2 separate regions of the Homo sapiens genome follow, and region 1 is linked to region 2. The links come from fine-mapping of genetic effects on gene expression. Tissue or cell type: whole blood. Region 2 holds a variant in brackets; the other region holds the start of a gene. All regions are shown on one strand. Distances are from middle to middle.

The links. PIP is the estimated chance that this variant, and not a neighbour inherited with it, causes the effect.
Region 1: it holds the start of PPHLN1, and the variant in region 2 is fine-mapped to the expression of PPHLN1 in whole blood (INTERVAL, PIP above 0.99).

The regions. Positions count from the first base shown.
Region 1 is chr12:42,324,188-42,329,330 of GRCh38, reverse strand. PPHLN1 (periphilin 1) reads right to left here and starts at 3,164. Exons shown (of 10, transcript NM_201439.2): 1 at 3,102-3,164. It overlaps ZCRB1 (zinc finger CCHC-type and RNA binding motif containing 1), which reads left to right and starts at 3,237. Exons shown (of 8, transcript NM_033114.4): 1 at 3,237-3,407. RefSeq lists an enhancer at 3,492-3,541.
Region 2 is chr12:42,462,626-42,467,953 of GRCh38, reverse strand. PRICKLE1 (prickle planar cell polarity protein 1) reads left to right here. Exons shown (of 8, transcript NM_153026.3): 6 at 1,574-1,760; 7 at 2,696-3,559. Among named protein-coding and RNA genes, the nearest start is that of PRICKLE1, 120 kb to the left of the region's middle. RefSeq lists an enhancer at 1,990-3,189. The variant G/A (reference allele first, on the strand shown) is at 2,168.

The sequences.
Region 1 (5,143 bases), 140 kb after region 2:
GATCGAGACCATACTGGCTAACACGGTGAAACCCCATCTCTACTAAAAATACAAAAACAAAATTAGCCGGGGGCGGTGGTGGGCGCCTGTAGTCCCAGCTACTCGGAAGGCTGAGGCAGGAGAATGGCATGAACCCGGGAGGGGGAGCTTGCAGTGAGCCAAGATCGCGCCACTGCACTCCAGCCTGGGTGACAGAGTGAGACTCCGTCACACACACACACAAAAAAAAAAAAAAATTGAAATTCCAGACAACTAAACATAAATTTTAGAACATAATTAGTTAAGGTCATTGAAAAAAAAAAATTAACTGATGCTGGGGCTGGGTGCGGTGGCTCATGCCCGTAATCCCACCATTTTGGGAGGCTGAGCCTGGCGGATCATTTGAGGTTGAGAGTTCAAGATCAGTCTGGCCAACATAGTAATACCCCGTCTCCACTTAAAAAATATACAAAAATTAACCAGGCATGGTGGGACATGCCTGTAATTCCAGCTACTCAGGAAGTTGAGGCAGGAGAATCCCTTGAACCTGGGAGATGGAGGTTGCAGTGAGCCATGATCGTGCCACTGCACTCCAGCCTGGGCAACAGAGCAAGACACCGTCTCAAAAAATAAAAAAATAAAAAGTACTGCATTCTCTACTAGTTTCACAAGTCACTTGACTTTCCAACGCTTTAAGGATACTTCTTTTATAAGCCCGAATGTACTGCACTAAACTTAGTAGGAGATCCCTGATTGTCCATTATAATTGATCAATTAACTGAAATTACACAAGTAAACAAAAATGCCAGATGTCTGCCTACATATAATATTTATAAATCTGAATTTTATTTCATATATGGATGGAAGTTAAGGCCTTAACCGGTCAGCCTCCTTCCAGTGTTTTACCCTCCATTTTACCCTAAAAAAGGATAATCAACTGTTAACGCATATTCATAATGTGAAGTTTCCAGGATCAAGAATCCAAGAGGTTTTTTATTAACCATAATAAATCCAAACTTCTATCTTCCATATGCCTCCTTCTATTATATCTAACCTTCTATTCTCTCCAAAAGCATATAATTATGCCTGTTTCCTTACTGTGCCACAAACAGACTAACACATACTACCACGGAGCTGTTTATTTTCCAAACGGGATATCTTTTTCCATTCTCTCATTCAACATCCAACGGTCCATCAAGGCCCAACTCAAAACCTATTATTCTCCACAAAGCCCATTATATAAACCCTACAAGACTTAAAACAGATTCCAAACTAGTGACTGATAGGCCATATGAGACTTGTGTTTGACCCACTTTTTTTTTTTTAATAAAATTCTATTCCACTGACAACATTTAAAAACTGGGAGAGGATGCTTTTTAAAAAATGGTATTTCCAACTTTTTTTGAAAAAATTAGATGTTCTGGCAAAACTGGGATCATATTCTCACATAGCCACAATCAGCTGTAGCTGAGTGGCAGGTGACCCCTTCTAAGGGTGAAGTATTCATTAACGTTAACTGCCTGATCTCTGCAGCATACCTTCAGCACCTGCAATCATTCAAGAAATAACTGACTGTCTTATGTGCCAAGAACTGTATTAGCTACTGGAGTTACAAAGATAAACGAGACAAACACAGTCCCTCACCGACAGTCTCGCTTAGTAGGGATGGCAAAGAAGCAATTAAGATACATGTGATAAATGCCGTGAGGGAAGTGCAGGACAGCTAAGAGTACATAGCAAAAATACCTAACTCTATGGAAGTTAGGGTATACCCCTCAAGTAAAGTGACAGCTAAACTCAGATCTTTAATAGAAGTTATCCAGAAAAAGATAGGAGGAAACAGGGAGCTCAAATGTCCCAGAGAGAGAAAAGAGCCTTTGTGAAGATACTGAGGGAAGAAAGTATTCTGAGGAATTGAAATCCGTTCAACATGGCTACAGCCATGCCCAACCTTTAAATGCAGGGTCAGAGAAAGGGCTCAACTGAAATGGCTGGCAGGAAAATCTACGTGTTATCAATAGTTAAGGTTAGGAGATGAAGGAGAATTTCACTAAAGAAGTTGAATATGTAAAATAGTTTAAGCAGGAAATAGAGGTTTCAGAAAGCACAGATGGGGTGTTGAGGGGTTAAATGGGGAAGAAACGAAGAAGCAGTGATAGCCTAAGTCGAAAGAAAGCACAAAGCAGCATGGAAATGAGACTATAGCACAGAAGACCACAGAAGCTTACATCTTGGGCGGTAACCAAGGATAACAGAGATGTAAAGCATGGTAAGTTTGGCTGGCCACAAGTATGCCTAGAGAATTAGTGCCAGCGGTCTCCTGTCGGCCACGGAGGCATTCAGGCCTCTCAAAATTCAGCTGCGCCCTGGATGGATTGTACTTCCGTCTCTATAGAAGACATCGGCTTCACTCTGGATTGATTGTGCAGGCTCCAGGAGAGGCTGTGGGTTCCAGGCTGCTGGAACGCAGGCTCCCAGGGAGTGGTTAGAGGCCTGGTCTGTATGTGCTGGTAGGCAGAAGTATAAATTACCTTGCATTACGTTCTGATTTTTCTGTAGGAATGGTGGGCATGTTATGGCCTCTTAGAGAAAAAGCAGTGCGTAGCCATTATAGATTTACAGGAAGAGAAAAGGTGCCAAGAAGATCAACACTTGTCCATACCCATACTAAAGATGAGTCATTCTGTGAATCCAACTCTCCCCAAGTTGACCTCGTCTCCCCAACTAGACTGAGATCTTCACCAGAAAACAAAACAAAACAAAACATAAAAGGTCTGTTTATTTTGTAGTTCCCAAAGTGCCTAATAGCTGGGTACCGTGAACACCTTCAGTAAAATTACCGACTTCCTGACTCCTCTCGGGTCACTGAAGTTACCTAGCTCAGTCGTCTTCTTGCATATTAAGGCGCTACAGAGAGGCGAACCCCTATCTTAGACTCAATACTTCCCTTTATTCCAAACTCCACTGCGTCTCTCCACCCTCAACCGCATGGGCAGAATTGTCACACAATTCAAAGGCAGGAGAATCCAGGACCCGACACAGAAAACTCCCGCCCACTCCCCCCCGTTTAGCAGCCCGCACACGCTCTGCATCCATCTCTGGGAAAGGTAAAAAGCGCTCACCGACTCTGGCCCTCCGGGAGACCCCGTAAATGCAGCCGTCCGCTCGCCGCCGTTATCCCAGGTAGGTACTTCCGGCGCGCGCAATGACGTTAGCGAAGCGCTCGCCTCTGGGCCCGCCTTCGGGGCCCGGATCTCAAACAGTCGGGAAGAAGCACCGTGGCTGCTATTATCTGCTCTCCGCGCCTGACCCCTCCCAGGACTCGTGATGCCAAGGCCGCTGCGAGCGGCTACGAAGAGTCGGGGTTGAGCCCCAGCTGAGCCGAGGGCTCGCACTCTTCTGGTCTCCCAGGCCCAACCCACCTGAAGGTAAACGCCTCCTCAGCTGCGGCCTTCTCTCCTGCGGGGCCCCCTCCCCAGACTCGGCTGCCAAAACGCTCTGCCCCTCTCTCCCGCCACCCTTTTTATTCCAGGACCTTAACCTCTGCCTGCCTTCGCGGCTCTCAGCAGAACGTGTAACGCATAGTTTCAAATGAGAAACTTAAAAAGCGACGTATCTATGTTGAGTTCCTGAAGTTTTCTAAATAATTCCCCCATAACACCAAACATGAGGCAGTTTTCTCATTCCTTCACGAATTGGCATGCCATAGAGTCAGTATTTTTCCATTTGTGATGGTTGATCTTCCCATCTCAAATACACACCGCACGCTCTTTTTAAATCAGAAATTTGAATTTGGTTGAGCCTGATATTTTCACGGTAATTTGCTGACTTTGTAAGATAAGATGTGAAAATTACTGATTACATTTGTAAACTTTATATACATATACACACATACCTACAGGTCTGTCTCTTCGAGGCACCAAGCCTATTTATATAATGTATCATTTCATAATTTGGCAATAAGCAAAATTAGCGTTTCGAAAGAAGTTTATATTGTCGATACATAAAGCTTAAATTTACTCCTTAACATCATACTAAAAGGGGAAAAGAAAATTTTCCTCTTAACACACCACTCCAGAGAAAAAAAATATTAAGACAAGCAAAAAAGGTACCCAGCCATAGTACAGGCATGCACAGCATAACAACTTTTTGATTAACAACAAACCACATATACCACAGTGGTCTCCTAAGAGTGTAATACATTGTACCATATTTTTAGTGTACGTTTTCTGTGTTTAGCTATGTAAATATTTACCATTGTGTTTCAACTGTCTACATTATTCACTACATTAACATGCTGTACAGGTTGTAGCCTAGGAGCAATAGGCTAGACCATCTAGGTTTGTCTCAGTACACCCTGTGATGTCTGCACTGTGAAATCACGTAACACTCAGAACATACCTCCTTCATTAAGCATAGCATGACTGTGTATTAGCAAAAATCAGTGGCTAAGGTTCTGTCTGAGTCCCCATGCTCTTTCTGACCTGGGTGAGCAAGGTGCAGGTAATGTACATATACAGTACATATTCAATAGAGCATTTTTTTTGCTCATGGTCTGAGTGGAAGTTAGGAGTAGCCTCAGGGTTTTTCCTTCATCTGTTCAAAACCCGTCTCCCTACCCATACAATCTGGCACTGAAAGTGTTGGTATAAAGAATACTTGAAAGAAGAAGAACCAAAAAAGAATTTTTTTTAAGTGGTGACTGGGAAAAAGGAATTCCTTAATTCAGCCTGCTGGAGTCATTGTTCCTAACTTCCTAAAATGTAAGGAAGGTGTACACATCTGGCATAATTAAATCGGTGATTGTTAATACTTTATTGGTTTTTGTTTTTTGTTTTTTTCCAAATAATACCCAGACTGGTCTGATGTATTGGTTTTATTTGGAATTAATAATACTTGGTTTAGGCCAGGTGTGGTGATTCATGCCTGTAATCCCAGCACTTTGGGAGGCTGAGGCAGGTGGATCATTTGAGGTCAGGAGTTCAAGACCAGCCTGACCAACATGGTGAAACACTGTCTCTACTAAAAATACAAAATTAGCCAGGCATGGTAGTGGATGCCTATAATCCCAGCTACTCGGGAGGCTGAGGCAGGATAATTGCTTGAACCTGGGAAGCAGAGGTTGCAGTGAGCCGAGATCACGCCATTGCACCCCAGCCTGGGC
Region 2 (5,328 bases):
CCAGTGTTTTAACAGATGCTCCTTTTCTTATCCAAGATCAATCCAGGGTGCTTCATTGCATTTACTCGTTGTATCTTCTTAGTCTCCTTCAATCTATGACAATAAACTTTGTTTTTATTTTTATACATTCATTTACTTTATACATTTTTTTCAACAATGTTCTATTTGAACATATTTTTGTTTTTGTTTTGTTTTGATTTATTTTTTTGGGATGGAGTTGCTCTCTGTTGCCCAGGCTGGAGTGCCGTGGTGCAATCTTGGCTCACTGCAACCTCCGCCCCGCGTGTTCAAGTGATTCTTGCACCTCAGCCCCCCGAGTAGCTGGGATTGCAGGTGCCCACCACCACGCCCAGCTAATTTTTTTTTTTGTATTTTTAGTAGAGGCGGGCTTCACCATGTTGGCCAGGCTGGTCTCGAATTCCTGACCCCAAGAGATTCACCTCCCTCAGCCTCCCAAAATGCTGGGAATACCAGGGTGAGCCACCATGCTCCGCTGAACATATTTTGGAAACCAAAAATATAAAAAAAATGAAAGAACCTGCCGGGCTCGGTGGCTCACGCCTGTAATCCCAGCACTTTGGGAGGCCGAGATGGGCAGATCACGAGGTCAAGAGACAGAGACCATCCTGGCAAACATGGTGAAACCCCGTCTCTACTGAAAATACAAAAATTAGCTGGGCATGGTGGCATGCACCTTTAGTCCCAGCTACTCAGGAGGCTGAGGCAGGAGAATTGCTTGAACCCCAGGAGGCGGAGGTTGCAGTGAGCCGAGGTCACGCCATTGCACTCCAGCGTGGTGACAGAGCGAGACTCTGTCTCAAAAAAATAAAAAATAAAAATAAAAATAAAAAAAGAACCAGACTAGACCCCATGGTGAGACCCCGTCTCTGTCCCAAAATGTTTTTCAAATTAGCTGGGCATGGTGGTTGTGCCCTTGTGGTCCCAGCTACTCAGAAGGCAGAGGTGGGAGGATCGCTCAAGCCCAGGAGTTTGAGGCTGCAGTGAGCTATGATTGTGCCACTGTGCTCCAGCCTGGGCTACAAGTGAGACCCTGTCTCAAAAAAATAAAGAGTCCTTAATCTAGAGATGGCCACCAAGTCAAATAAAGCATTATCAACACAAATGCTGTTCACTCAATTCCAGCATCTGTGTAGCTATAACTGTGTTGAGTCCACAGACATTTTTATGAGTTTTCTTTCTACTAAAACACCAAATTATTTCACTAAATTATTTCCGTGTTAATGTGTTCTTTGCCAGATTATGCCAAGAAAATGTTATTGGGGAGCAAAAATATGACCAAATGAATTACCTCCGGTGTAGAATTCTGTTTTTTTAAAGTCAAAGCAAGCATTTATTATTTAGTTTGTTTTCTCAGCACTGTCAATTTATGCTCTAGTTTGTAGCTAAATCAAGTGTTAGATTTAAGCTTGTGACTCTAAGAAACAAGGTTAGCTATCTGATTTTTTTAAGAGCCAGTGTCTGTCCATTGCCCGGAAAACATGCAGTTACTTGGCCTTTAAAATAGTTCCTAATGATTTTCTTTCATTCTCTGGTTTCACATTTCTTTTTGAAGATAATTTTTGCTGATGAGTGCACAGAAGCTGAGGGTCGCCATTGGCACATGAAACACTTCTGCTGCCTTGAGTGTGAAACGGTCCTGGGAGGACAGAGGTATATCATGAAGGACGGCCGCCCCTTCTGCTGTGGCTGTTTTGAGTCTCTCTATGCGGAGTACTGTGAAACCTGTGGGGAACATATTGGTAAGTCCACAGCCAGCCCGTCTGCCCTGTCACCTAGCCATTAGTCTGTCTTGGATTATCCAGTCTTATTTTTTCTTTTTCTGTTTTTTAAAGTTGAGATATAATTTACATACAATGAAATGTACAGATCTTAAATGTTCCAGCTGATGAGCTTTGACAAATGAACAGAGAGTTGATTCTTGTTACTTGCAGTAGTTGTGTTCTGTGACGTTACTGCAAACACTGGATTAGTGAACACTGAACCATTGCTCATGGGGGAATACAGGGTTAGGTTCCTGTGAGCCTCTGGTCACAGCAGTTTCATCAACCCATCAATACATAACCTTGTTTCACGTGTGTTTTTGCTTAAAGCCACTGCCTTATTGAATGTACATTGTTGATGCATTAATATTGAACTCACAGCCAGT[G/A]GTACCGTACTCAAGATTAGGAGCTTACGTAATACATGTCTTTTCTCTGTAAGGCACATCACAGCCTTCTTGCCCTTAGCAACATGACAGCATTTCAGCATTATCAGCATTACACTTGGGGGCCATTTTAAACAGTAAACTCACCAACAAAGAGCACAAAAATGCAGAAAACGCGGCAGTAGATAGACCAGAAATAGGACACTTGTCTACAGTATGAGAGCTGAAACAAAAAGCTGAGCATCTCCTGGATCAGTGCATGTTGGTTCAGTTCGTATTTTTACCACTCTGCACATCTGCGAATGACCATGAAACTGTTGCGAATATTAGTTTGGGAGTTGTGAATAAATTTTTATGAGTAGGCACACTCACAAATACAGAATCCACAAAGAATGAGGATTAATTATATCTGTGTCACCCACACAGCTCCCCCATACCCATAATCTTTATTTATTTTCTTCGTTTCTTCCTTATACCTTGTTTCAGGCATTAAACCATAACCTGTTATTTATTCTATCCTTTTCAAAACAGGTGTGGACCATGCACAGATGACCTATGACGGGCAGCACTGGCACGCCACGGAAGCCTGCTTTTCTTGTGCCCAGTGTAAAGCCTCTTTGTTGGGATGTCCCTTCCTTCCCAAACAGGGTCAGATTTACTGCTCAAAAACGTGCAGTCTTGGTGAAGACGTCCATGCCTCTGATTCTTCCGACTCTGCATTTCAGTCAGCTCGATCAAGAGACTCCCGAAGAAGTGTCCGAATGGGCAAGAGCAGCCGGTCAGCAGATCAGTGTAGACAGTCTCTCCTCTTATCGCCTGCTCTGAACTACAAGTTTCCTGGCCTCTCAGGCAATGCTGATGACACCCTTTCTCGAAAATTGGATGATCTGAGTCTCTCCAGACAAGGAACAAGTTTTGCCAGTGAAGAATTTTGGAAAGGCAGAGTAGAGCAGGAAACTCCAGAAGACCCTGAAGAATGGGCTGATCATGAAGATTATATGACGCAGCTCCTCCTCAAGTTTGGTGATAAAAGCCTCTTTCAGCCACAGCCCAATGAGATGGATATTCGAGCCAGTGAGCACTGGATATCTGATAACATGGTTAAAAGTAAGACCGAGTTAAAGCAAAATAACCAGAGCCTTGCAAGTAAAAAATACCAGTCTGATATGTACTGGGCACAGTCACAAGATGGACTGGGCGATTCTGCTTATGGCAGCCACCCAGGCCCTGCAAGCAGTAGAAGGCTTCAGGAATTGGAACTGGACCATGGGGCTTCAGGGTATAATCATGATGAAACACAGTGGTATGAAGATTCCCTGGAGTGTCTGTCAGACCTGAAACCAGAGCAAAGTGTTCGGGATTCGATGGATTCTTTGGCATTGTCCAATATCACAGGTACGTAATCTAGGGATTATGGGGTATTTGAAAAAAGGAGCTACTAAAAAGTGTATTCAAAAAATTGCAATTCAAGCCAGGCGCAGTGGCTCATGCCTATAATTCCAGCACTATGGGAGGCTGAGGTGGGCAGATCATTTGAGGTCAGGAGTTCGAGACCAGCCCAGGCAACATGGCGAAACCGCGGCTCTACTAAAAATACAAAAATTAGCTGGGCATGGGCCTGTGATCCCAGCTACTCGGGAGGCTGAGGCAAGAGAATTGCTTGAACCCAGGAGGCAGAGGTTGTAGTGAGCCAAGATTGCGCCACTGCACTCCAGCCTGGGCAACAGAGCAAGACTCCATCTCAAAAAAAAAAAAAATTGCAATTCAGCATGAGTAGGAGTTGTGTGTTATTCAAAACCATGGATCAAGGGAAGGAAGGAACCTCACTTAAATACCAAACACTAGCAAAACAAACACATGTGTGAGGTGAGTGCATGTGCATAAAATATATTTACAGTGCAGTCTTTAGGGATAGGTTTTATTACCCTGTTTTGAAGAGAAGGAAATTGATTGGAGGAAGGAGTGTACAACTGGATTGTGTCTGAAAGATATTGTACGCTTGAATTATTCTGTATGTATTCTAAGATACCAAAATTGGCCCACACACTTTACAAGCTCTTTTTTTTTTTGAGGTGGAGTTTCGCCCTTGTCGCCCAGGATGGAGTGCAATGGCGCAGTCTCACCTCACTGCAACCTCCATCTCCCGGGTTCAAGTGATTCTTCTGCCTCTGCCTCCCCAGTAGCTGGGATTACAGGTGCATACCACCATACCTGGCTAATTTTTGTATTTTTAGTAGAGATGGGGTTTCGCCATATTGGCCAGGCTGGTCTCGAACTCCTGACCTCAGGTGATCCACCCGCCTCAGCCTCCCAAAGTGCTGGGATTATAGGCATGAGCCACCACGCCTGGCCACAAGCTCATTTTTTTTTTTAAACATCTTCCTGAATTTCCCTGTGACAGTAGCTCAAAAACAGCTGAATACTTTTTATTTAGATTCTAAAATATTACTGTAATGTTTTCTTTTTTTTCCTAGTTTTTTGTTTTGTTTTGAGATGGAGTTTCACTCTTGTCACCCAGGTTGGGGTGCAATGACGCGATATCAGCTCACTATAACCTCTGCCTCTCAGGTTCCTGAGTTTAAGCGATTCTCCTGCCTCAGCCTCATGAGTAGCTGGGATTATAGGCGCCTGCCACCACGCCCAGCTAATTTTTGTGAGACAGGCTGGTCTCAAACTCCTGACCTCAGGTGATCCACCTGCCTTGGCCTCCCAAAGTGCTGGGATTACAGGTGTGAGCCACTGCCCCTGGCCTACTTTAATGTTTTCAAAGCACAGTCATACCAGTTATCCACATTTTATCTTTAAAATGACCCTGAGCTATATAGAGTGGATGATATGATTGCATTTCACAAATGAGGAAACTTGAATTACCAAAAGGCTAAATGCCAAACATTACATAGGTTCTAAAGGCAAGATTAGGCCTAGAACCTAGGACATTATGCAAATTATTTGCAACAAGTCTTTGGATTATAGAAATGTTGCTGTTGCATGGCTAGTTTTATAGTCAAACTACTGACATCCAGCCCTTTGATGAAGGTAATGCTTCTGTAATGTAGACAGGAAAGGCTTAGTAGCTGCTTCCTGCCAGGAATAACTTGTGCCAGACACTGCAGTGACAAGGAAGGGTACGGCAAAGCTACCCCCCCGGCTTCTGTGGACTTGTC